Linked DNA regions of Homo sapiens: regions 1, 3, 4, 5 and 6 are each reported to be linked to region 2. Evidence: microRNA targets listed by miRTarBase, many of them from high-throughput screens and not tested one by one. Region 2 holds a microRNA gene; each other region holds the end of a gene's coding sequence.
The links. Region 2 holds the annotated microRNA hsa-miR-6879-5p (CAGGGCAGGGAAGGUGGGAGAG, at 2,140-2,161, opposite strand). A microRNA usually pairs through its seed, bases 2 to 8, with sites in the 3' UTR of a target mRNA and lowers its output. Matches are read on the target gene's strand: a 7mer-m8 pairs with bases 2 to 8, a 7mer-A1 pairs with bases 2 to 7 and ends in A, and an 8mer does both.

Region 1 (5,250 bases), not on the chromosome of region 2:
AGACCCTTTTCCCTTCCCAGACATCATAACACCATAGTGGGAGGGAGCTCAAATTCACAGCTCATGTGTGACTCTGGGAAGGGTCCTCACAGTGTCCCTGATCCTGCTCTTATTAAAGGAGCCAGGGAGGGGTCCCACAGTGCATCCCAGCCCTGGGGACCCTGGGGCCATGATTGCTCCATGCTGCATTCCCAAGCACAGTGGGAGAGGAAGGGCCCCATTTTCCTCGCAGACTGTGGCTGAGGGCTGAGTTGGAGACACGCCTCCTCTGGGTTGGGAGGTGGGTGCACACAGCTATTGAGCCCTAGATCCTGTGCATGTGGTTGGGATCAGGCAGGTCAACTGGCCTCAGCCTTGCCTCTCTCCCTCCAGTCCTGTTACGAGCACATCCAGAAAGAAGACATGAGGCTGCACCGCTTACCTGGCCACTGGCACTCCAGGGAGCTCTGGTAGCCTGGCCTTTCCTGGACAGACTGAAGAGCTGAGCAGGGCACTGCCAGCCTGTCCCTCATTACCCAAGGCAAGGGGCAGGACAGGCCCTCAGAAGCAGCTCTTGGAGGAGATGAGCATTTTGTTTTGCACAGGAAGATGCTGCTGCTGCCCTGACTGGGATGAGGGTGAGGGGTGACGGGTGTGGCCCTGGATGTGGTGGTTTTCCCTTGGCCACTAGCCCATCTTCAATGACCCCTTAATCTGCAGCAGCTCACAGGCTGGGGGTGAGGAGTCCCTGGCTTCTCTTAGCCTGAGCCTTTCTCCCAAGTTCCAGAGCCTCTCCGGGCCTCAGTGCTGCCATCTGTACAATGGTGGAGTGAGTACGCTGTAAAGGACCTTCCATTCATTTTGCTGAATTCCAGAGTCCTTTTGGAAAACTGACTTTAGTCTGCTGGGCTGTATTGACCTCTGGCAGGCTCGAAGCCTCACTGGGTATGCAGTCAACAGGATGGGCCTGGAGATCCGTGAACTGCAGGCCACGTACCCATGACGTAAACGGCGGCACTGGAGCAAGCTGGGGCGGGGGGTGGGTAAACCCTCACTGCCAGCAGGCCCCAAGTGGCTTGTAAATCATTCTCCTGTGATGTCTGTGGGCCTGCGTGGGGACAACAGGGGCACATGACATCTGCCTGGGCCCTGACCAATAAACCCTCAGACCCAGGACCCAGGACCCTGCTGTAGTTGGGGAGCAGGAGTACCTTTGGGAGGGGAGGACTTTATTTAAACAGTGGTTCTAGTGTGGGACCAAGAGAGGCAGGAGCTGGGTCTTGGGGCAGCTTTATTCCTGTTGGGCCTCAGTTTCTCTTCCCCACACAGTTTATCTTCCGTCACATTGTGCCGGGTGACGTGCACGGTCTCCCTCTGCCCTAGCCGGAGATGCATGATGACAGGCAGTGTGATGTGTTCTGAAAGTGTCCAGGGCAAAGCGTAGGGAGAGGGTGGATTTGTGCAGGGTGCAGCTCTGGAGAAGAAGCTGGATCACTCTTGGTCCCATTCCCTAGGCCCTGAGCAAGTCAGGCTCCTGGCTCTGGGTGTGGCTCCCCCAAACGAAGTACTGACTTCAGCCTGTGAGGGGAGGGTTGAGGGAGGCTCTGGAAAGCCCAGCCACACCTGAGTCCCTGGCAGTAGCCTTGGGGCAGAGGGCACCCGCAGAGTCCCAGAGATGATGTGGGCAGTGGGCAGAGAGAGCCTTGGCGCCTCTGTTTGCCACCACTTCCCCAGGAAGGAGGGACAGCATTTCTCTGGCTGGTTCCACTAAATGTGCCAGCCCAAATGCAGGGCATGGGCTCTGGTTCTGCCAGGAGCCTGTGACACCCCCAGGAAGGGGGTGGAACTGAGGAAGAGCGAGGATATGCAGGCACTCATGCTTACCGGGACTGGGGCAGCTCACTAGGATTCTATCCTTTCCAATCGGCATCAGCCAGCTCTTGTCCCCTGATAAGTGAGGACAGCCTGACCCTGGCCTCAAATGCAGCCATCCCTGAGTTCATGCGATGCTGACGGGACCCCAGCACACTTCCCTGCCTCCTTTGAGATCTGCGAGCCCTTGCTGCAGTTCAGATTCAACAAGGCCCTCTGCCCACCCTCTCACTAGGCCTCACCCAACACCAGTGGAACTGGAGCCTCTGGCTGGGCACAGTGGCTCACTTTGGGAGGCTGAGGCAGGAAGGCTGCTGGAAACTGAGAGTTCAAGACCAGCCTGGGCAACATAGTGAGACCCTGTCTCTACAAATACAAAATAAAATAATTAGCTGGGTGTGTTGGTGTGTGCCTGTGGTCCCAGCTACTCGGGAGGCTGAGGTGGGAAGATCCCTGAGCCTGGAGGGTCGAGGTTGCAGTGAGCGGAGATCGCACCTCTGCACTCAATCCTGGGTGACAAAATGAAACCCTGCCTCAAAAATAAAAATAAAAATAAAAATAAAATAAATAAAAAAGAGCATCTGGACAGAGCCTAGGGGGCTGCAGTGTTTTAAAAGGGTCCTGGAAGAGTCCAAGGGCAGACAGAGCTATATCAGACCCTTACAACGAAACCCACAGAGCAGGCAGGCAGGCAGGAGTCCTTGCTGTAGATGAGCCTGACCACTGCAGTGAGTGCTTCATGCACAGAAGACCCACCCAGTCCACATTCCAGGGTGACCTCTCCCAGCTGCTGCAGGAGCCCCTGGCTGCCCAGAGAGCCTGCTGGTGCCCAGTCTCTGGATGGCAGGGTTGGCCAGCAGGGACCCTAGCACCTCAGTGATCTCACTGATGTTCAGAGCAGCCTGGCAGGGCCTAGCTCCAGTCCCTCCACCATTCTAGTTCCCACCTCTTTCCCGGGATGAGGATTCTCTCTTCAGTGGTGATCTTGAGGAAGTGCTAAGATTCTTCCTAATAATCCCAAATGGCACTTCACAATCACCTGGGACAGAGTGGAGAGAGGCACAGGGAGACACGGCCCATTCACGGACTCAGGCAGTTTCCTCTCCTGTAAGGGCTGAGTCCCAGGCTACAGTGGGACTCAAACACATTGGCCTTGCCCTCGGGGGCCAGGACGTGGGGCTGAGAATGACAGATACCCAAGGGGCCAAAGGCCTTTTCAGTGAGCAGATGTGTCCAGGTTGCACAGCCGGACCACCTGCTTATCCTAGACGGCAGCCCTGGCCCTGGACAACCGCCCCACCCACAACTGCACCCGGGCCTGCATGCAGTCAATCATACAACCTCTAGTCCTGCTTCCCCCAGGCCCACTACTCCCTTCACCAGTCAACTCCATCTGCCACCCTGTTCTGCCCTGCCCTCCTGCTCCTGCCCCTCTCACTCATCTCTTTTCTTGCAGAAATGCCCTCCTCCAGTCCCACTAGGTCCTAGGCAGATCCATCCTTGCAGGCCTAGGTCATATGAAGCCCCTGTTCCCCTAGGAAGAAGGCTTCTCTCTTCACAGCCCCTTTCCAGACCTGGGCCCATGTTTCATTGCTTTGGCGGGGGCTCTCTTGCCTCCAAAGTCAACAGTCCTCTGTGGTGTCTTCTTCCCATCCTTCCCCCGGGCACAGTGCAGGCCGCCTCGCCAGGGGCCTGTGCTCCACAGCAGTTGGGGACGAGGACAGAATACAGGTTGACACGGGAGGGGTTGGACTCTGAAGGGCCTGACCCCCAGAGTAGGTCAGCATCTCAGACTGGCTGGAGAAGCATCCGTGCAAACAACCCCTCTGGTGTGTCCAGGATGGACGGGCCCCAGGGAAATGGAGCCCCGGGCAAACACAGGCCAGGAGTAGACAGCAAGTTGATGCTGATGCCTCAGGAGAAGGGGAAGAAAAGATGGACACCCTCTGTGCCTTGCTCCATAGTCACACACGGCACCAGAGGCTCAGGCCTGGCCCTCCTGGGGCCGTGTGCCCACACCAGGCAGCTATGATGCCAGTGTGGCAGGACACCTCCAGGCACTGCCCTACTGCTTGGTTGGAGCTCCAGCTGCAGGAAAGCCACAGAGTGGCGTGGCCAGGCTATAGCCAGTGACCCAGAGGTAGTGGTGGATGGAGAGGGCGTTCTGAAAGGGACCAGGGCACAGCATGGCCCCATGAAGTCCTCTGAAGGGACTGCTGACTTCTTTGTCAGCGAGCCTCCCCAGGGGCCTCCTGGATGGCAGCCCTGTTCCCTGTCTGGAGTATGGTCTGGAACAGCTGCCCCACAGTGGGAGCTGGCAGGCATCTGAGGGACCCGAGTGCTGACCAAGCCTCTGTTCATTCACACCACCCCCGAGGATGCTGGAGCCAGTGCGTGAGCAGGGTGCCCACTGTGCATGCCCCTTGCCTACTGCAGCTCCAGAGAAGGCTGGAGGGATGCTGAGGCCAGAGGGGTGACCAGGGGCTGCTGGAGAGGTGCTTAGTGTCACTGTGTGAGTGAAGCAGATGCTCACTAGTAGGGCCCTAAGGAGGGCCCCAGGACCTCAGCTGTCACTCTCCCAGAGGGACGGCTGACCACTGGGGCCCAGCAGGGGACAGGGGCTGCCCTCTTATGGGCACCTGGGAAAGGATAAGGCGAGGGTCTGGGTTAAAGTCAGTGTGAGGGATACAATTAGGGATTAGGGTTGAAGTCAGGGTCAGTGTCAAGTTAGATTTAGGGACTGGAGTGAGAATGAGGGTCAAGGTCAAGCTCAGATCGGGTCAGGGCTTTTCTGGTTGGCTTTGTCAAGGGTTGTACAGACACGTACTCTGGTGTTTACTCTTGCTGCGGGCGAGAACCTGGGATGGGGTCCAGGCTGCCAGGTCTTGGTCTCTCTGGGACCTTGGCCAAGTCCTTTTCCTAACTGGGTCCTGTTTGTTGTCTGTAAGCAAAGGAGCTGCCCAGACACCCTGTTCTGCCATGAGGAGCACCCTTTGCTGTGAAGGGCAGGCAAGAGATGCCGCTTGGGCTCTGGATGCACTGAAGAGGACCCACGTGCGGGCTAAGCACTTTATGGGCTTTATCTCAACTTCCTCATGACCAAAGCCCCAGGAGTCACAACCCAGGAAACCTAGGCCCTCAGGAGCAAGCAGAAACACACACTCTGTCCCCAATAAACAGGGGGCTGAGTAGCTATGATGGACTGGACCCACACGGCCTCATACCAGAGCCCAGGTGCCAGCTGGGTGACTGCACGACTCCAGCACTACCAGGTGCAGAGCTGGAGCCCAGGTGTTTGGCCACCTGTCCCTGTTCCTTGCCTTCAAGACAGGCAAGTTTCTCCCAAAGTGATCTTCTCATATGCCCCCTGGCTGAGGCCTGGCCCCTCATGTCCAAAAG
Region 2 (5,250 bases):
TCTCGAACTCCTGACCTCAGGTGATCCACTCGCCTTGGCCTCCCAAAGTGCTGGTATTACAGGCGTGAGCCACTGCACCCAGCCTTTTTGGTTATTTTTAATAAATGCTTTTAAAATAAATAAATGTATGCCCCTTTCCCTCAGCGAGCCTGTCCCGGGGCCTGGACTCACCTCGCGGATGGCGTTAGAGGACAGTGCTCCAGGCAGGTCCTGCTTATTAGCAAAGATGAGGAGGGTTGCTCCGGCCAGGCGCTGGGGGAGAAAAGATAGAGGGGTGGGGTGGGGACTCAGAGGACAGCCTGACCCCTCCTCTAATGGCCCAGAGCATCTGGGGTGAAGGATCGACCTGGAAGATCAAGGTGAGGCCCCGTGGTGGTGGGAGAGGCCCAGGAGTGAGTTTGTGGACGTAGCCATCAAGGCTGGCCCACATGAATGGAGCAGCCCTGGGCCAGGGTTCTGGTTCCAGCCAACCACCACCCAGGGGACACCGCTGTCCCCATGCTCCAGCTTCCTCTTCCATGAACAGGGAGGGGTGTTGCATAAGATGATCCCTGAGCTCTCCGTGGTTCTAGACTGCTCCAATCTGATGACCAGACATGCACAGAGGATGTGAACTCTCCCTCTTCTGGGTTCACACAGCCCTTTAACCGTTCCACTCCCGACAGGCCTCACTGTCCACCTCTGATTCTAGTTGTTTCCACATATGTGTCTGTGATTGGGAGAGATGTGGGTGGACGGGTCTAACCCTTGGGCCTTGACCTGCCTTGACCAGCATTTGACGGCCCTGATCTCATCTGACCTGCTCCACCCACATAGGAGATGTGTGCGGTGTGCCCAGGACAGTCCCCACTCTGCCTGCAGAATCCCCCCTTTCACTCTCACAAGTGTCCTCATTTTCAACTAAATGCAATTTTGTAGCCTGAATCAAACATTGGAACACAAAAAGTATATTAGTGGAAAAACGTGAAATTCAAATAAAATCTGTAATTAAGATAATAGTAATTCACCAGTGTTGATTTATTAGTTTGGACAGGCCACGGTTAGGTAAGATGGGGAAGCAAGGTAAAGGGTATATGGGGGACCTCTGACCTCTGTACTATCTTTGCAAGTGTCCTTCTTTTTTTTTTTTGAGACGGAGTCTCACTCTGTTGCCCAGGCTGGAGTGCAGTGGCACAATCTCGGCTCACTGCAAGCTCCGCCTCCCAGGTTCACGCCATTTTCCTGCCTCAGCCTCCTGAGTAGCTGGGACTACAGGCGCCCGCCACCATGCCTGGCTAATTTTTTGTATTTTTAGTAGACACGGGGTTTCACCATGTTAGCCAGGACGGTCTCGATCTCCTGACCTCGTGATCCGCCCGCTTCAGCCTCCCAAAGTGCTGGGATTACAGGCGTGAGCCACCGCACCTGGCCCCTTCCTTTTTTTTTTTTTTTGAGACAGGGTCTTGCTCTGTCGCCCAGGAGGCTGGAGTGCAGTGGCACGATCACAGCTCACTGCAGCCTCAACCTCCTGGGCTCAACTGATCCTCCTGTCTGAGCCTCCAGAGTAGCTAGGACTATAGGTGCGTGCCACCACCCCCAGCTGAGGTCACACAGCAAAGAGTCAGACTCTTGAGCCAGGCTCCATGGCCTCTCGAAGCTTCATACTGGCCTTGGGTTATCCTCCCTAAAGCCCAGTGATGTGGGTGTCATCATCACCATTTCAAGGCATAGAAACTGATGCTCAGGGTAGTGACGTAGTAACACCACAGGGACGTTAACTCAATCTCAGTCCACAGCATGTGTCCTGCCTCTGGCACCATGGGCCTCCCATGGTGGGGGCCCAGAGAAGGAAGGGATCCTGCCTCTGGTTTCCCTCTGGGGCCACGGGCCCCTCTGGGCATCTGCTGAGAAGGCAGCCACACGTCCATACATGTACACAAAGGGTAGGAGCTGCCCACCTCCTCCACCAGCAGGCTCTGGAGCTCCCGCTGGCAGTCCTGCATGCGCTGGCGGTCTGCGCTGTCCACTACCCAGATGAGGCCATCGGTGCTCTCAAAGTAGTTCCGCCAGTAGGACCGCAGGGACTTCTGGCCACCCACATCCCAGATGTTCAGCTTGAATCTGGGCAAGGAGCGGGTGACAGGAGGGTCAGCTGGGCCCCTCTCCCACCTTCCCTGCCCTGCTCTGGGCTGGCCCTCCCATGGGGCCCCTGCTCACCCTCGGTGCTCCAGGGTCTTGATGTTGAAGCCCAGCGTTGGGGAGATGGTGTCGATGTCCTCCCCATTGAACTTCTTCAGGATGGTTGTCTTTCCAGCATTGTCCAGGCCACTGGGGCGCAGCAGGTTAAGGAGAAGTCCCTGTTCTCTGCCAGGTGGTGACATTGTTGCAGAGCCCCTTAGGGGACTCATTATTTCCCACCATGTATCAAACTGAGTTGAGCACATGCCTGACCATAATCGGCCCACAATAAATATGAAAGTATCAAATTATAAATATCATCTCTACTGACCAAAGGCTCCTTAATTTGTTGAACACCTACTATGTGCCAGACCCTCTTCTGGGTGCTAGAGGACAAAGCCCTGCCCTTAGGAAGCTTACACTCTAGCGGGAAGACAGTCAATAAAGTACAAACAAATGAGAAAAGAAGGCCCTGCCAGATCCCGGCTAGCGCCATCAACACAACAGAGAGGCTTTCCAAGAGGGCCATCGGAGGAGGCTCTTTCAGCTCAGGTGCCGGGGAAGGCCTCTCTGAGGTGTCTGGAGCTGAGACCCAAAATACAAGGAGCAAGCTTTTTGAAGAACTAAGGTAAGAACAAATATCTGGAGGCAGCCACCCTCATTTGTTTCTGGAATATTCCAGACCTGCTACTGCACAGTGCAAATTAATGGGTGTGCTTACCTGTGGAAGGAACCACCCTCCTCTATCTTCCCAACACTGCAGCTCAGTTGGGCATGGTGGGGTGGGCGGGTCCTGGACTCGACCACCTTTCCCTGCTCATCGGAGCTGGGGCAAATGACCTAGGCCCAGGAGAGGGGTGAGGAGGGCATTTCCCCTGAGGCCCAGCCTTAGCCCCTGGAACCTAGCCGCTGATGACCCCCTGCCCCCAAGCCATCATCCATGTTTCCTTCCCCTCTTGATCATTCCCACTGGCTGATGAGCTTGCCGTTCTTTCTCCCACCTTAAAAAGAGCAAATAGGCCGGGCGCGGTGGCTCACACCTGTAATCCCAGCACTTTGGGAGGCCAAGGTGGGTGGATCATCTGAGGTCAGGAGTTCGAAACCAGCCTGACCAACAAGGTGAAACCCCATCTCTACTAAAACTACAAAAATCAGCCAGGCGTGGTGGCGGGCCCCTATAGTCCCAGCTACTCGGGAGGCTGAGACAGGAGAATTGCTTGAACCCGGCAGGCAGAGGTTGCAATGAGCCGAGATCACACCACTGTACTCCAGCCTGGGCGACTCAGCGAGACCCCGTCTGATTAAAAAAAAAAAAAGAGCAAACAAAGCCCTTGATCTCTCTGCCCCATCTAGTTATTCATTTATATCTTTCCTTTTACAGGAAATCTCAAAATAGTTGTTTGTGCTCACCCCCATTTCTGCCTTCTTGCTCTTTCAAGAACACACTCCCATCAGGCTTTTGCTGCTGCTGTGGCCAAAACTGTCCTTACCAAGGTCAGTCCCCAAAGACCTCCCTGTGGCCCTCTAGTGCTGGGACAGCGCTCAGTCATCTTCTGTTCCCCACTCAGCACCTGATGGAGTGGCTCACCCTCCTCCCCAGCACATGCGCTGCCCTTGGCACTGGGACACACCCTCACCTGGTTCTGCTCCTCACCTGACTTCATCCTGGTACAACCGGGTTCTCTTCTCTGGCCACGCTCATCCCTGGGTGACCTCATCCAGGATCACAGCTTCAAATACCATCTCTATCCTGATAACACCCAAATGTGCACCTCCCACACACTGGACCTCAGTGCCTACATCCAGCTGCCTGCCTGACACTTCTGGGCTGTCTCGGAGGCATCTCACATGGCACACACAGGCACACACAGGGTTCTCATCTCCACCCTGAACCTGCTCCTCCCCCAGTCCTCTCCATCTCAGCAAATGGTTCCTCACCCTTCTAATTGCTCAGGCCAGAAACTTCCATGACCTCACTACTTCCATCCTGGTCCAAGCCACCATCCTATCTCGCCTGCGTCACTGCAGTGGCCTAACTGGTCTGCGATTCCTTCTCTCCACTGCACTTCTCACTGAAAGGGAAAACCAAAAACCAAAAGGCCCTAGGTGAGGGGGTTCCCAGTCAACGCTCCTCCTCCCCACTCCAGCCATACTGCCCTCCTCACCAGTCCTCTGAACACGCCAGTTAGTCCTCCCAGGGCCTCTGACTTGCTGTTCCCTTTGCTTTAAAGTTTCCCCCCCCCCCGAATTGCTATATGGTTCAACCCTCGCCTCCCTCATGTACTCAATTGTCATTTTTTTTTTTTTTAACAGAGTTTCGCTCTTGTCACCCAGGCTGGACTGCAATGGCGTGATCTCAGCTCACTGCAGTCTCCGCCTCCCGGGTTCTGGCAATTCTCTTGCCTCAGCCTCCCAGGTAGCTGGGATTAAAGGTGTCCACCACCACATCCAGCTAATTTTTGTATTTTCAGTAGAGACGGGATTTCACCATGTTGGCCAGACTGGTCTCAAAACTCCTGACATCAGGCGATCCATCCGCCCCGGCCTTTCAAAGTGCTGGGATTACAGGCATGAGCCACTGCGCCCTGCCATCATACAGTGGCCTTCTTTGACCACCCTAAATTGCATTATTCTCCATACCTATATACGTAGTGGGAGTTCATCCTGGAGCAGTATAAGGCCCTGTTCCCCAGAAGCATGGTCCAAAGCATGGCCCATATATATATAGTATGTATGGAGAATATATATATGTATAAATAGAGACAGAGTCTCACTATGTTGCCCAGGCTGGTCTCAAACACCTGGGCTCAAGCGAACCTCCCACCTCAGCCTCCCAAAGTGCTAGGGTTACAGGTGTGTGCCACCGCACCCAGCCTCTATTACATATTTTACTTACTTCCTGTGTTATCATCTTTCTACCCGCGGGCAACCCCCCCGCCACACACACACACACGCATTACAGAATTTCCATGAAGGTAAGATTTTTTAGTTTTATTACCCTGGGCACTAGGACAGTGTCTAGCACATATTAGGCACTCAATATTTATCAAATGAGTGAACTGTATGCTTTTCTTAGAGCTCTTTAAAGCAGAC
Region 3 (5,250 bases), not on the chromosome of region 2:
GCAGAGACTTGCTCCAAAGCATGCAGTGGTGGGTTGGGTGCCTCCTAGCAGAGAACATATGGGCAGCGAACCTGTTCTCTTGTCCCCGACCAGGGTCAGTGCCAGTGGCGGCAGCCCCCCGGGAAAGAGATCTACCGCAAGAGCAACATCTCCGTGTACGAAGTTGATGGCAAAGACCATAAGGTGAGTGGGTGGCCAGGGGTTGGGAGAGGCCGGGGAGGCCCTGGGCACCTCCCAGATGATCCTCATCACCACCAAAGGGGAGGGGGCAGCCTTAGCTGAGCCTCTATGGGCAGAATGCCTCTGAGGGGCCGGGCACTGCAGCTCACACCTGTAATCCTAGCACTTTTGGAGGCTGAGGTGGGCAGATTGCCTGAGCTCAGGAGTTTGAGAGCAGCCTGGGTAACATGACGAAACTCCTCGACTAAAAATACAAAAAATTAGCTGGCGTGGTGGTGCGCACCTGTAATCCCAGCTACTCGGGAGGCTGAGGCACAAGAATTGCTTGAACCTGGGAGGCAGAGGTTGCAGTGAGCTGAGATTGTGCCACTGTACTCCAGCCTGGTCGTCAGATTGAGAATCTGTCTCAAAAAAAAAAAAGAAGGCCTCTGAGGGCCTCCTAGCCTGGCACTAGGCCTGTAGTTGGTGCATAGGAAACACAGGGCCTTGTGGTGGCCCCAAGACTCTTCTGCTGGTGGGGTTAGGTTCAAACTTGGGTTGTTCTGGAACCCAGAGGAGATTTTCTTGCCTGAGGCTGCTTTTAGAAGTGCTCTCTCCTTCCGTTGGAAAGAAAGGTGTTTGTTTTTGCCTGGGAGGGGACTGCTTTGTGTGAAATTTCCTCCTGAGAGAGCTCTGTGGCTTTCAAGGTTTGAGTTCCTTGTTCCTGGCCCCGAATGACTTCAGCAGGGCAGGTTGGGGCCTTTGGGACCTGCCTAGCTGTTGTAGAGAACTTGGCCTTTGCCTTATCAGTCTGGGAGGGTCTGGCCAAGTGTACTGGTTTCCCGCAGATGGGCCATACAGCACAGGACAGAGAGGGCAGGCTTCAGGGTGGCTCATGTTGCCTTGTCACTTCCTCACTGACCACAGACAAGTTACTTAACATGGTTTGTTCCTGTTTCCTTGTCCATAAGACGGGAGTCATAATATTTAATATTTACCTAGTTGTGTTGTTAGTGGAATAAATGAGACAGCAAATGTCAAGTGTTTAGTGCAGTGCTTAGCACTAGTATGTGCTTAATAAACACGGGCCTTGTTATTATCGGTGACCTCTTGGGGCTTGATTAGCCTTGGACTCGGAGAATACGCAGGCTGAGCCCAGCCCTTGCCCCTGCTCTGCCTTCCTGAGCATGGCTGTGTGGAATAGCAGAAGGGCCCCCGCTGGAGATGTGGGGGTGCTTTCCAACTGCGCTCTGCCAGCTTTGAGGCTCTGGGCAAGCACTTCCACTCTGGGAGCTTCAGCTTCCTCCTGAGTAAGATGGGCCTGGCAGTGCTGGGCTCGCACAGCTGCCGGGTTGGATGAGAGAGTGGCTGTGGTGTCATAAACCAGGGAGCCCCTTAGTGTGTGCCGTGAAGCCAAACTCGGTCCCATTGTCCCCCTCCTGGAGTGCAGCCAAGTGGACAGACAGGGCTCGAGGTTCCTCCATTCAGCAGACGTTTACCAGGCACCCAGCTTCATACTTAGACTCGTGCTAGGCGCTGGGGACACAGCCATGAACAGGACGGTCTAAATTCCTGCCTCGGAGCCTCAGTTTCACGAGCTGAAACAGAGTTAATGTCTGTGAAGACTGAAGCAGATCCTGCATGGAAGGCACCCAGCTCGTATTTGGCACTCAGAAGGGGTGGCCGGGCTTCATCCAGCTCCACTGGCACCTCCGAAGTGCTGTTGCTCTCTCATTTCCAGTTCCCTGTTCGTCAGAGGCTGACCGAAGACTCCTTCCAGTGTGAAATCCTTCTGGCCTGGCGAGGCGCCCACTTCGCGTGGGCTGGTGCCGGCCGCTGGAACCAGCTGGGTGGGGCCTGTGCCTGCCCCCTGAGCCTGTCTCCCCCCTCCTCAACCCTAGATTTACTGTCAGAACCTGTGTCTGCTGGCCAAGCTTTTCCTGGACCATAAGACACTGTACTTTGACGTGGAGCCGTTCGTCTTTTACATCCTGACTGAGGTGGACCGGCAGGGGGCCCACATTGTTGGCTACTTCTCCAAGGTGCTGGGTCTGGAAACTCGGGGTGGGGAGGGTGGGGAGGGCGAAGGTGGGCATGAACAGAGAGTGGGGCAGAGCCTCCCCAGCGGCCCTGAGCACCTGCCTCCTGCAGGAGAAGGAGTCCCCGGATGGAAACAATGTGGCCTGCATCCTGACCTTGCCCCCCTACCAACGCCGCGGCTACGGGAAGTTCCTCATCGCTTTCAGTGAGTGGTTCCTGGCCTGTCTGGGAGGGGGAGACCTGTGGGGCAGGGGTGCCAGGGCAGGCTGGATCCTAAGTTCCTCTTTCTACTGCTGCCAGGTTATGAGCTCTCCAAGCTGGAGAGCACAGTCGGCTCCCCGGAGAAGCCACTGTCTGACCTGGGCAAGCTCAGCTACCGCAGCTACTGGTCCTGGGTGCTGCTAGAGATCCTGCGGGACTTCCGGGGCACACTGTCCATCAAGGACCTCAGGTGAGGGGGCCTCCCGGGCCCTGGGGGCAGGACTTGCCCTGAGATGGGCCACGATCCTGCTTCCTCATACCCTGTCACCATCCTGGCCAGATCCCACAAGGGCACCAGGTCTGGCATTTGCTCTCATCCCTTTTTGCAGCCAGATGACCAGTATCACCCAAAATGACATCATCAGTACCCTGCAATCCCTCAATATGGTCAAGTACTGGAAGGGCCAGCACGTGATCTGTGTCACACCCAAGCTGGTGGAGGAGCACCTCAAAAGTGCCCAGTATAAGAAACCACCCATCACAGGTGGGTGGGGGGCTGCTGTGTGTCGGGGGCGGTGGGGGAGTGTCAGTATATGGACTGGTAGGAGTCAAGGCCTCCTTATTGCTGTCACATGATCCCAAACCAGTCAGACCAGCTCCCAGGATGGAGCCCGGGGCAGGCCTCTCATTCCTGGGCTTCCCTACCCCTCCCCAGCACAGCCTGCCCTTTTGTTCTCACCTGGAGGAGGTGAAACTGGCCTGAGCCCAGAGGAGGGCAGCCAGGTGTGAGCTGGCCTGGCCCAGGCCCAGCCCTGCCTCCCGCCCCTTCTCCCCACAGTGGACTCCGTCTGCCTCAAGTGGGCACCCCCCAAGCACAAGCAAGTCAAGCTCTCCAAGAAGTGAGCAGCCTGGCCCCTGCTGTCGGACCTGAGCCTCCTGGCTCCCAGCCTGTAAATATGTATAGACCTGTTTTGTCATTTTTTTAATAAAGTCAGTTCTGGTGGCCCTGGACTTTGGAGGGGAAGGGGAGGCCAAGAGCGGATGTTCTTCATTTCACTTCACACATGCACGGCAAGTTGTGCTCAAACATTTTAATCATTTCTGCCCTGTTACTCCCACCCCAGATCCAAGCGCCAGCCCAGTTCCGGTGGGGGCTCAGTCCTCCGGAGTCCAGGAGTCAGGGCTCGGGGGCGCTCAGCGGCCAGTGGGCAAGATTGGGGCCTTTCCTGTCCTCGAAGCTGCACAAAGGTGGCCCCAGCCCAGAACACAGGGAGAGGGCAGAGAGATGTGCTCATCAGTCTGGGCAGGCGGGCCGGGAGCAGTCTTCCAGAAACAGGTGGGAGCCAGGGCTCATTTTCATAGCCAAGGGTCCCAGGAGCTCCCCAGGAGCTCGGCCAATGGGCTGGTCCATGGTGGGTGAGGGGCCAGAGGCTCTGGCCATTGCTACAGGCAGTAAAACTCCTGACTCTCAGTGATGGTCCCAAAAAGCACACCCAGAAGAATGGGCTCAAAGATCAAGATGGGGCCCCAGCCTCCCGCAGAGTCCTGAAGGAAGGAGTGGCTCAAGTCAGGCCCTGGGTCCAAAGGCCATCAGGGAAGGACCAGGCTCCTGTCCTTGAGTGTGATGCATCCATCCTGGAAGTAGGGCCAGCTCAGTGCTCGCTGAGCCATGGGGAGAGGAGGCCCAGAGCCAGGCCCAGAGGCAGGAAAAGGATGGGCCTCAGCAAGCCCTGGGCTGGGGCAGAGCTGAAGGCCAGGTGGCTGCCACAGAGGTTGCTGTCGGGCTGGGACTCCTGGGTTTGGGGCACCACACGAGGCTGGAGTTCTGTCACCTTGCTTTGGATCCAGGAGGCATAGCTGGAGGCCAGAGTGTACACACCAGGCCTGTTGCGGGCCCCACAGGCATCTCCCCAGCTCACAATGCCCGTCAGGTACCAGAGACCCTCCACAGGGCAGGAGAGTGGGCCCCCAGAGTCACCCTGAGGAGAGAAGCCACACAGCAGCCATCAGGACCGGGCCAGGCCTCCTTTCCGAAGTTGCACTGGTCATCTGCCCCCCGGGCCTGTGCTTACCTGGCAGGCGTCCTTGCCCCCCTCCACATAGCCAGCACACACCATGTCCTCTTGGACAAAGTGCGGCTCCTCAGGCTTGGCGTCGATGTTGTACAGGCAGTTACACGTCTCACGACTGATCAGAGGCACCTCGAGTTGCTGCAGTGGCTTGGGCGTCAGGAGGCTCACTGTGGGGGTAAAAGAGGCTTACCCTGGGCCCCTCCCCAAGTCAGGTGCCCCTCCACACCTCTAGGCACCCAGCGTCCCACCTCACCTGAGGGGGCCACATGACCCCAGCCAGTGACAGTGCAGTGGAGGCCGTTGGGGAAGGAGGCGTTGGCTGCAGGGAGGCAGATGGGCCGGATGTAGCGGGAGAAGGTGATGGGTCTGCTGAGTTGGAGGAGTGCAATGTCGCCCTGGGAGCCCTCCTGGAGGTAGCTGGGGTGGGGGATGATGTCCTTCAGGGTGCTGACCTTGGCGTCCTCGGAGTAGGAGTCTAGCTGGTGGGCCCCCAGCTTGACCTCATAGGCTTCCTTGTGGTGCTCGCTGCAGGCAGGGGGCAAAGGCTGAGACCCAGGAGACCTCTCCTTGTTCCCCAACCCCCACTGCCAACCCCTGATTCCGATCAGCCCCTTTTAGGTCTCAAATTGCACCTTAGTTTTATCATGTAACCTCTGACCCCTCACCTTCACTCCTAACTGGTCCTTCCAGACTTAGAACTGACACTCTCAGACCCAACCCAAGAACCCCAACCTCTGACCTGGATTGACCCATTAACTTTGACCTCCAGCCCACTTTT
Region 4 (3,000 bases), not on the chromosome of region 2:
TTAGCAGCAGCTCTCAGTTCACCAGGAAGGACTTCTTTCATTTTTTCCTTTTCAGTGGAGAGGGGAGCCACATATCGGGGCAGAGCAATGGGCGGGACCCCCAGGCCCTGGCCAAAGCCGTGCAGGTTCACCAGGATACTCTGCGCACCATGTACTTCGCTTGAAGGCAGAACGCTGTTACCTCACTGGATAGAAGAAAGCTTTCCAAGCCCCAGGAGCTGTGCCACCCAAATCCAGAGGAAGCAAGGAGGAGGGAGGTGGGGTAGGGAGGAGTGTAGGATGCCTTGTTTCCTTCTATAGAGGTGGTGTAAGAGTGGGGAACAGGGCCAGCAAGACAGACCACCAGCCAGAAATCTCTGATATCAACCTCATGTCCCCCACCCCTCACCCCATCTTGTCACATCTGGCCCTGACCCCACTGGACCAAAAGGGGCAGCACTGGTGCCCACCATACACACAGGTGTCTCATGTGACTCACAGTGCTAAAGACTCATGCTTGACAGCTTGGTAAGGTCAACTCTGTAGCCCTGCAGACAAAAGCTGGTTAGGTTTGGGTTTGATACTTTAGATGGGAAAGTGAGGGGCTTGAGAAAGTGGGTGGGAGGAGGGAAGGATTTTTTAGGAGCCTTAATCAGAAAAGGACTAGATTTGTTTAAGAAGAAAAATGAAACCAGACCCAGATCAATATTTTAGGATACTAGATGTTTTAATGGGTTCAGAATCCAGTTTGTAGGAAGATTTTTTAATGGTTTTGGTTGCTCCTCCCCCAGCTGCCACCCCCCACCTTACCCTTATTCCTCTCTGTCCACATTTTCTGCCCCACCTTACTTCTCCTCCCTGACAGACATCCAGCCCCTAGTAATACTTAAGGCACTATGGCACTTAGCTTTGAAGTGACACGACCCTGTCTTCCTTCCGCCCGCTGGTGGGTAACCAGTGCCTTCCCTGTAACGGTAATGCTGCAGAACTGCAACCTTTTGTACCTTTCTTTGGGGAATGGGGTGGGGGTGGGAGAGGAGGTAGATGGGGAAGAAATACCCCAGACCCAACAAACCTCCAGCCAGAAAGCCAGCTATTTTGCATTTGAAGGAATTGACTTCCTCATTCATTGAGCTTTTTAAAAGATCACAACCTCAAGATGGTTAAAATCCATTGACATTTGCACTTTCAAACATGACAAGTCTCGGAGCTGCTGAGATGACAGGCCCCTGGCCTTTCCACTTATGCCTCCTTTTCTCCTTATTCCTCCTACCTCCCGCCCCGCCCAGGTCTGGAGTTACTTTCATAGCATTTTTCACTCTTGGCTTCTTTTCTCCCTTGATGGTCAAGTCTCTTATGTTTCAATATTTCTTAACTGGGGTGTCTTATAACAAAAAACTCTTAGGTCTAAAATGAGAAAAAAGAGAGAAAACAAAATGTTATTTTTATACCATAACTTGAGTGTATTGCCAAAATTTGGAAATCCTTCCCATGCCTGATGAGTTTATATCCCAGAAACATTGAGCCATCAGAATGAACTGTGTACCTGATTTGTTCTCTGACCTGGCTAGGTAGGGAGGGGGTGGTTATCGCCCCAAGATGGGGTCCAGGCTCCATCCTTCCTCTGTGCAGATAATACCTTTTTCTTGCTATAGCCTCCCTCCTCTGCACTGTCCTGCACTCTTTCTTGCAAGTGCATCTTTTTCCTTCCCCTGGACTGTCCTCTGACCCTTTGGCTCATCCTAGATTGCAGTGTGTCCTGTGGACAGGCTGGGGAATTTTGCTGCTCCCTATTGCTTCTGTTTACAAAAATGAATTTTTCCTGGTTTCCCACTAGGGCATGTGGGTGGGTGGCATGGACTTTTTTTTTTTTTTTTTTTTGTCTTGAGACATGGGGTTTGGCTGTCTTGCAGGACTGGAGAAGGTGGTGGTTCTAGCTTGGTCTCTGTTGGCCTTGAAGCAAGCATCCCCCCTGCCCTTTTTCCTTGACTGTTCATTTTTTTCCTGCCCCACTGCTTGGGATGGGGAGTTGCAACTTCAGTGTGGAATTTCCTCTTTGAGGAGCCTGGGCTTGGATCTATCCTGATCTGGTGATGAAGCCATGATTACTTTAGACCTAGCCCAGGCTTGGAGGCCAGCTGGAGGAAGAAGGGTCTAAATCCTGGCCTGTAGAGTTAGAACTACCATTTCCTCCCCTTAGCTGCCCTTGTATGACCCGGATTTGCTATGCAAAACAATCTATCCCAGGTTCTGTTCTGGTTGGCTACATTGTTCAGCAACTCACAAAACGTAGCACAAACATTCATTATGGAGAAAGCATCAGGACTGTTGAGTAACTCCTCCTTTACTTTTTTCCTGCTGGCTACAGCATGGGGTGCCCTATAGGCACAAGCCCAGCTGAAGAACAGAATGGAGGGCTCTGGGAGGAGGCAGCTCACTGGAGAGCCTACATTCCTTACACAAGTGCCTAAAGAGAGTGATGCTAACACTCCATCTGCCCTGTCCATTGCCTTCATATACAGTCTACTTCGTGTTCTGTCACCCTTTGGGGAGGGGAGTTCTCCTGGGACAGTGGGCTCTGCATGTTCTCCACTTGGATACATTTTGGGGCTAGGATCAGGGCACTATTCCTGGAGGGTCCAGTCATTCACCAGCATTTGCAAATGTCCATAGGGAGCAGGTGGCAGCCTCTACTCCCAGCAACAAGTTTGTGTTCTCTCCTTTTCTCTCTTTGCCTCACTCTCTCCAGTTGGTTTTCAGCTGGGGCTTGAAATGCATTTTTAGCCCTTTGACGTGGCTTATGCCATTCAAGAAATAAAAAGCAAGAGAATCAGCTTTGGGCAATGACAAGAAATGAGTTCTTACTCTGATTTTTTTGTAAAAAGATAATTTTTGAGACTTGAAAAATACCCCGACCTTGAGATTATTCCTGTTTGAAAGGTGGTGCATGCAGATGGAGAAGTGGTGTTGGCAGCAAGCTTTGGCTCATGTGGATTTGGTTTAAGTGGTGCTTCTTACCCA
Region 5 (3,000 bases), not on the chromosome of region 2:
GAGGAAACAGGCCCAGAGAGGCCAAGAGGCTTGTTCAGTGTCACAGAGTAGCGGAGCCCTGGTGACTCCGGGGCTCCCAGCTTGCCCTCTGCCTACTGGGGTGTGCCACCAGGCAGCTGGGGAACCCTCACACTGGGCACCTCCTCCCACTGTTTACCTTCTTCTCCTTCCTGCTCCTGCCTGCCTCAACCTACCGTGGGCCAGGCTTTATTCTCCCCACTTCTCCGGTGGGGAAGCTGAGGCCCAGGGAGGGCAGGGGGCTCACTGAGGGTCAAACAGCAGGCGAGTTGATGCCTAGGTTTGGCACTCCTGCCCGACACCCTGGTGGCTTGCGGAGGTCAGCCTGGGAACACCCTGGGGTGGTGTGTGGGTGGGGGCTGGGTCCTCAACCCAGGCCTGCCTCTTGCTCCCGGCCTCACTGCCGTCTCCCCCTCCCCACCTGTCTTTATTCTCTTTGCAGCAGAAGACCCCCTGCTGCGCCCAGCCGGCCCACCATTATCCGCCCAGCCGAGCCATCCCTGCTCGACTAGGCCTCGAGGGGGGCGTGCTCTCGGGGGGGCCTCACGCACCCGCGGCGCAGGAGCTTCAGTGGTCTGGGGCCCTCCGCCGCCCCTATGCTGGGACCAGGCTCCCAGTGGGCAGCCCTGGCCTCTTCCTTAACGCTGGCCCCGGTCCAGGGCCGGCCCCTGTGCCTGGCTGGACACCGCACTGCGCAAAGGGGCCCTGGAGCTCCAGGCAGGGGGCGCTGGGGTGTTGCACTTTGGGGGATGGAGTCTCAGGGTGGCAGAGGGGGGACCAGAACCCTTGACACCATCCTGAATGAGGGGTCCAGCCTGGGGGGGACTCTACCAAGGTCTTCTTGGGCTGGGAAAGCCCATGTAGGGCAGGCCTTCTATAAGTGCGGGCACCAAGGGCGCCTACATCCCCAGGCCTTGCTGGGGTGCAGGGGTATATCAACTTCCCATTAGCAGGAGCTCCCCAGCGGCAAGCCTGGCCCAGTGGGCTCGGTAGTGCCCAGCTGGCAGGCCTGAGGTGTACATAGTCCTTCCCGGCCATATTAACCACACAGCCTGAGCCTGGCCCAGCCTCGGCTGCCAGAGGTGCCTTTGCTAGGCCCGGAGCCGTTGGCCCGGGCCGGCCTTGCCCTATTCCTCTCCTCCTCCTCCTCCTGGGTCCCCCAGGGTGGCTGGGCTTGGGCTATGTGGGTGGTGGTGGCGGGGGGTCTTGGGGGCCTCTCAGCTCCCGCCCATGCCTCCCTGATGGGTGGGCCCAGGGCGGCCTCTCTCTGAGGAGACCTCACCCACTCCTCGCTCAGTTTGACCACTGTAAGTGCCTGCACTCTGTATTCTATTAATAAACTAAAATAAAGGGAAGACGCTGCTGGTGGCTGCTGTGTGGGCCTCTTGTGTTAGTGTTCAGGCTGGGGACATGGGTGCCACCTCCATCAGGCCTCCCATAAGGATGCCCAAGTCCCTGCACTCATAAGTGCCTCCCATCTCCCTGAGGGCTCTGCTTTCGGGGGTGTCACCTTTCAGAGGAAGCCACTCGATACAGGGGAGAGCTTTTACTTTCCTTAGCATGTGAGGAGTGGGAGCAGATATTCTCTGACCCCCTGCACACCCCCACGTGCACAGGCCTGGCTGCTGCCTGGTGAAGCGGGGACCCCAGCGCTCCACCCCCTTCCTACCCTCAGGCCCTGCTTCTCTCACCTCGTGGGGAAGCCCAAGCCTCGTGGCCCAACTGGGGCTCAGTTAAACTTTGCTTTCTGATTTTTCTCTTGTGCCAGGCGACCACCTCCATCGGCTCCCGCACGACCTTTCTTCTGAGCTTCGTGGGAGGCCCCTCCCACCTGTCTGGCTGCCCCCTCGGGGGCCGGTCTGTCCTGGCTGGTGTCCCTGAGCCCCAATCAGCAGGCTCTTGTGATTTTCTGACCATAATTTATTGACTCCAATGCCCAGGCCACACCACCCTTTGTTATAGGAGGCTTCTGCCTAGACTTTGGCCGGGCCATCCCTCATGCCTGTGTGGGGCCCCTGCAGGAGAGGGGCCGGGGCAGGTGGTCTTCCAGGCCCCCTTCCTGGCATTCTGTTACCAGACCTCAACCTGGCTTGGAGGGCCCAGGTTTCCTTGTTAGGCCCTGCCCCGCACCAGGCAACGCTAACACAGGATGGGAGGCTTAGGCTAAGGCACATTTACAGTAGAGGGGCCAGGAAATCCGAGGCTCACGTTCCAACGCTGCAGTGCCCACCATGTGAGATTTCCAGGACCGTCGGTGCAGCCACTGAGCCGTCCCTTCTACAAGCCAGAGGTGTTCCCTGCCCGCTGAGGACGGAAGGAGACTCATGGGGCCAGACCGCAGGCCCTGACTGCACACTCCCGTTTTGGCAGGAAACTAAAATTGGGGAGGGACCCCCAAGTCTCATATGCACACACCCTGCTGCCCCTCCTTTGTCCCGTTCTTCCTTCCATGGCAGGGGCTACGTGGGCACCGGGCGCTTGTCCTGGAAGAAGCGCTTGAGCGTGCAGACCTGCAGCACAGCCACCAGCAGCAGCACCGCCACGTTGACAGCTGACCAGAAGTTGACCCGCTCCAAGTTGCCCTCTTGCAGGTTGCGGTCACGTGCCTCGAAGGCCCGCAGTAGCGTGAGCATCTGGATGCTGCGCTCCAGCCGGGTCCGCATGGTCTCAATGGACTCCTACAGGGCAGCGGGAGGGGAAGGGTCAGGCCTCCCTCCACCCATCAGGGAGCAGAGACCAAAAAAACCGGGGGATACGGAGGGAGGCTGTATTAACCCTGGGAGGTACAGCTGCAAACACAGACTTGTTCAGGCTAAGTTCAAATCCTCACCCTGCCACTCACTGGCTGTGACCATGAGCAACTTAATTAACCTATCTGAGCCTGTTTCCTCTTCTATAAGCTTCCAAATTGCTGTGAACATTTAATGCCTAAATAAATGTACAAGGATGAGCATGGTGGCTCATGCCTATAATCCTAGCACT
Region 6 (3,000 bases), not on the chromosome of region 2:
TATACAAACTATAATACCTTTCAAAATAAAATACCCACATAAGATAGCTTTAATAAGAAATATTCAAGCCAGAACTTGGAAAAACATTAAGCAAGAAATTTACTGGGCTGATAATGTCTTAATTTGTGATCATTCAAACATTTGATGATGTGTCTCCTCTTGTAGACCCCAGGCTCTCTCCCTTTTGGTCCCCACAGTTAAGAGACATTCAGTTGGTTGTGCTTGAGACAACCTGTGATAATTTCATTCAGAGGAAAAATATTTTGCAATATAATGACAGACCAAGAAGGAAGAGAAGGTGGGTGCTCTGGAGAAAACTTATATGAGAAAAACACAAAATTATCACTTGAAAATAAAAAGATTTTTTTTTCCAAAGGAATGCTGCACCCATTTCACTTAAGATTAGAAATCCAGGTTAAAGGCACTGGGATGTACTCCTCACCATGAATAGACTCTCAATTACATTTATTCGCATGTCTGAGTCTATTGCAATCAGCCTGCTTGCTGAGTGCTTCCATGACACTCTTACATAAAAACCTAATGTAAATTAAACATGTTTGAAACCGTTTATAATGTAACTAGTTTTATAAAAATATCCAGAGTTGCTAATAAAGCACCAAGAAAAAGAGAACCTCAGGGGGAGGACTCAGATCCTTCCTACAAGGTCACCCTTTTATAATATTCTCTAATAGGACCTCCAGAATGACAACAGTCATCTTTGACATGTCCTACCTAGATAATCTTAGGGATGTAGAACATTGCTGTGGTGACTATACCCAAATGCCACTTTTCATTATAAATAGTTAAGAGACATGTTACAAGATTTCATGGCTTACTCTTAAAAAGGTAAAATAGGTGCAATTTTCCTTTAAGAAAGTCTTTATTTTATAATATACCATTAATATTTTGATGTTCCCTTCAGTAAACACTGATATAACTACACTGGGACTACCGAAGAACTGTGTAGTAGCTATGGTTATCTACAAATACTGTATTTTTTTCACTTGAATACAGTATTTGCACATTTAAAAAAAACATTGTACAAAATAAAATTATATAAATGAAAGCCTCAAAGAAATATCCATCACTAGGTCTTTGAGCTGAAGTGACCAAAGACCACAGTAAATGAAAACATTTCTAAACATGATGTAAACATAAATGAAGTAATGCAAAACATCAAGGTATTCAAATCTACTGTATTGCTATTTTCACCCTTAATGTATCTTTCTACATAGCTTTCTCCTTTTGGAACAGTAATACATGGGGCAGTACATTATTTTCATAACCTTATGCCATCAAATCAATTAATACAGATGCTTGACACATTTAATTATACAAAATCAATTTGCTTCAAGATACAAAATTAATGTTGATATGTAATTAATGAAAAAAATAAGATGTTAAAAAGATAACTATAAGAATATCCAGATATATGCTGTATTCCCACTTATATAGATCTGATCAATAAAACATCAACACATTCACTTAGATACTGATTTAATCCATGGATCAAGGCCATATTTTCAAAGTATTTTAAGGATGCCAGGACACTGCAAAAGCTGGAGAAAAGAGCTGAGGAACAACATATGCTTGCTAAACAAGAACTATGTTTATTTAGCTAGTGAATACCTAGAGTAATAAATTTTTACTTCATGATAGCAATCAGGCTCGCAAACACCCAGAAATAGGAATTAAGGGTTTTAAATGTAGTTATAAAGGTCATAAAAAGTCTGATTAGACTGAGGTACATTTACTCAAAATTTTGAGATTCATTAAGTGGTAGCAAACAAAATAATTCCTCAGACAAATGCACATTTTTCAGTATACATATTAATGGGGGGAGGAGGGAAGAAGAATGTGCATTAACTGGTGAAATCCACCAAGCTGCATATCAATATTCTGTTACACCAAACAGTTTGAAGACAAGGGAAATGTTCTAATATAATTTCAGATTATGTTTCATTTGGCTAAAATAGAGCTTAAGGTTGCTTTGCCATATTAAAAGTTTACTACAATAATTTTTCACATCAACATTTAGACTTGAACTCCAGGACTAAATATGGCATGATTATTTTGCTTTTAATCTGTCAAATAGCTAAAAATCGACAATTTAAAAACTACAACAAAGAAAAAGTTGAAGCAGTGTGACTCTTACATCATTGAACCACTTCTAATGGTTAACTGTTAGTATTTAACAAATTCAAAGAGTTAATGAATCCTTGCATTCATTCAGTCTTCTGTGCCTTAGCTAGGATGCATAATTACAAAAGACAGCAGATACTGGTAAAAGCTTCAGGACAGAAAGTGCTTGACGAAGTTACAGTTCTCAAGTGTGTTTGGTGAAGAGTATAAGGGCAGATGCGCTGATGAAAACCATTACGAGAAGAGTCAACTTTGTGTTAAAGTGTTCAAAGATGTCACCTTAAGCAGAAAAGAGCTTTAATACGTCTTCTTTGACTTATTAGGCATTTCCAGAGTCTACATCGTTAGTGTTGTAAATTTAACAGGACATCTTCATACGGTTATTGTTTGTTTCTATTTCTCTCCTGAAAAAAAAAAAACACACACACACAAAAAGAATTACAATGAAAAACTCTCATTATTTAAAGATTTAAACTATATGCACATATAATGTAAATCATCTCCATATAAAGTTCAAGTACTAATTCAAGTAATTAAAAACAATTGATAATTACCTCTATATACCATAGTGAGATTATTACCACAAAACATTTTACATAAAGAACTCTCAAACACAAAGACCTATTTCAGGAGAGTATAGATCCTCTCCACATCCCTATTGTTTGTTTATGATGAGAATATAATAACATCTTTTCAGTCCTTTCAAAGAGTTTTTCATCTTGAGGTGTCAAACAGACTAAAAGCTATTGGCTGAGGTAGGGGCAGGAGAAAAAGGTTAAAAGTTACATTAAATTGCAGTACAATTGCATTCAATGAAGATTTCAGACTAATAAAAAAAACTTTAAATCACAAAGAGAG

Region 1: miRTarBase lists ALS2CL as a target of hsa-miR-6879-5p. Seed matches in the 3' UTR shown: 7mer-m8 at 598-604 and 8mer at 1,354-1,361.
Region 3: miRTarBase lists PRSS8 as a target of hsa-miR-6879-5p. Seed matches in the 3' UTR shown: 7mer-m8 at 3,675-3,681.
Region 4: the mRNA of AGO1 is a reported target of hsa-miR-6879-5p. Seed matches in the 3' UTR shown: 7mer-m8 at 1,952-1,958, 7mer-m8 at 2,180-2,186, 7mer-A1 at 2,355-2,361 and 7mer-m8 at 2,474-2,480.
Region 5: the mRNA of DNM2 is a reported target of hsa-miR-6879-5p. Seed matches in the 3' UTR shown: 7mer-A1 at 1,142-1,148.
Region 6: the mRNA of YTHDF3 is a reported target of hsa-miR-6879-5p. Seed matches in the 3' UTR shown: 7mer-m8 at 2,352-2,358.

The regions. Positions count from the first base shown.
Region 1 is chr3:46,666,187-46,671,436 of GRCh38, reverse strand. ALS2CL (ALS2 C-terminal like) reads left to right here. Exons shown (of 26, transcript NM_147129.5): 26 at 373-2,442. The coding sequence ends at 453. Among named protein-coding and RNA genes, the nearest start is that of ALS2CL, 25 kb to the left of the region's middle.
Region 2 is chr11:65,015,421-65,020,670 of GRCh38, reverse strand. It overlaps MIR6879 (microRNA 6879), which reads right to left and starts at 2,166; the gene lies at 2,101-2,166. It overlaps ARL2 (ARF like GTPase 2), which reads right to left. Exons shown (of 5, transcript NM_001667.4): 2 at 2,197-2,307; 3 at 1,938-2,100; 4 at 172-252. It overlaps ARL2-SNX15 (ARL2-SNX15 readthrough (NMD candidate)), which reads right to left. Exons shown (of 11, transcript NR_037650.2): 2 at 2,197-2,307; 3 at 1,938-2,100.
Region 3 is chr16:31,127,957-31,133,206 of GRCh38, forward strand. PRSS8 (serine protease 8) reads right to left here. Exons shown (of 6, transcript NM_002773.5): 4 at 4,726-4,997; 5 at 4,473-4,639; 6 at 3,477-4,379. The coding sequence ends at 4,053. It overlaps KAT8 (lysine acetyltransferase 8), which reads left to right. Exons shown (of 11, transcript NM_032188.3): 6 at 94-183; 7 at 2,061-2,201; 8 at 2,311-2,404; 9 at 2,500-2,650; 10 at 2,790-2,944; 11 at 3,239-3,403. The coding sequence ends at 3,303. Among named protein-coding and RNA genes, the nearest start is that of PRSS8, 5.1 kb to the right of the region's middle. RefSeq lists enhancers at 1,148-2,095, 2,096-3,043, 3,992-4,937.
Region 4 is chr1:35,919,444-35,922,443 of GRCh38, forward strand. AGO1 (argonaute RISC component 1) reads left to right here. Exons shown (of 19, transcript NM_012199.5): 19 at 56-3,000. The coding sequence ends at 164. Among named protein-coding and RNA genes, the nearest start is that of AGO3, 10 kb to the right of the region's middle.
Region 5 is chr19:10,830,518-10,833,517 of GRCh38, forward strand. It overlaps DNM2 (dynamin 2), which reads left to right. Exons shown (of 21, transcript NM_001005361.3): 21 at 461-1,386. The coding sequence ends at 530. It overlaps TMED1 (transmembrane p24 trafficking protein 1), which reads right to left. Exons shown (of 4, transcript NM_006858.4): 4 at 1,550-2,696. The coding sequence ends at 2,478. Among named protein-coding and RNA genes, the nearest start is that of MIR6793, 3.0 kb to the left of the region's middle.
Region 6 is chr8:63,209,229-63,212,228 of GRCh38, reverse strand. It overlaps YTHDF3 (YTH N6-methyladenosine RNA binding protein F3), which reads right to left. Exons shown (of 5, transcript NM_152758.6): 5 at 1-2,546. The coding sequence ends at 2,523. Among named protein-coding and RNA genes, the nearest start is that of YTHDF3, 42 kb to the right of the region's middle.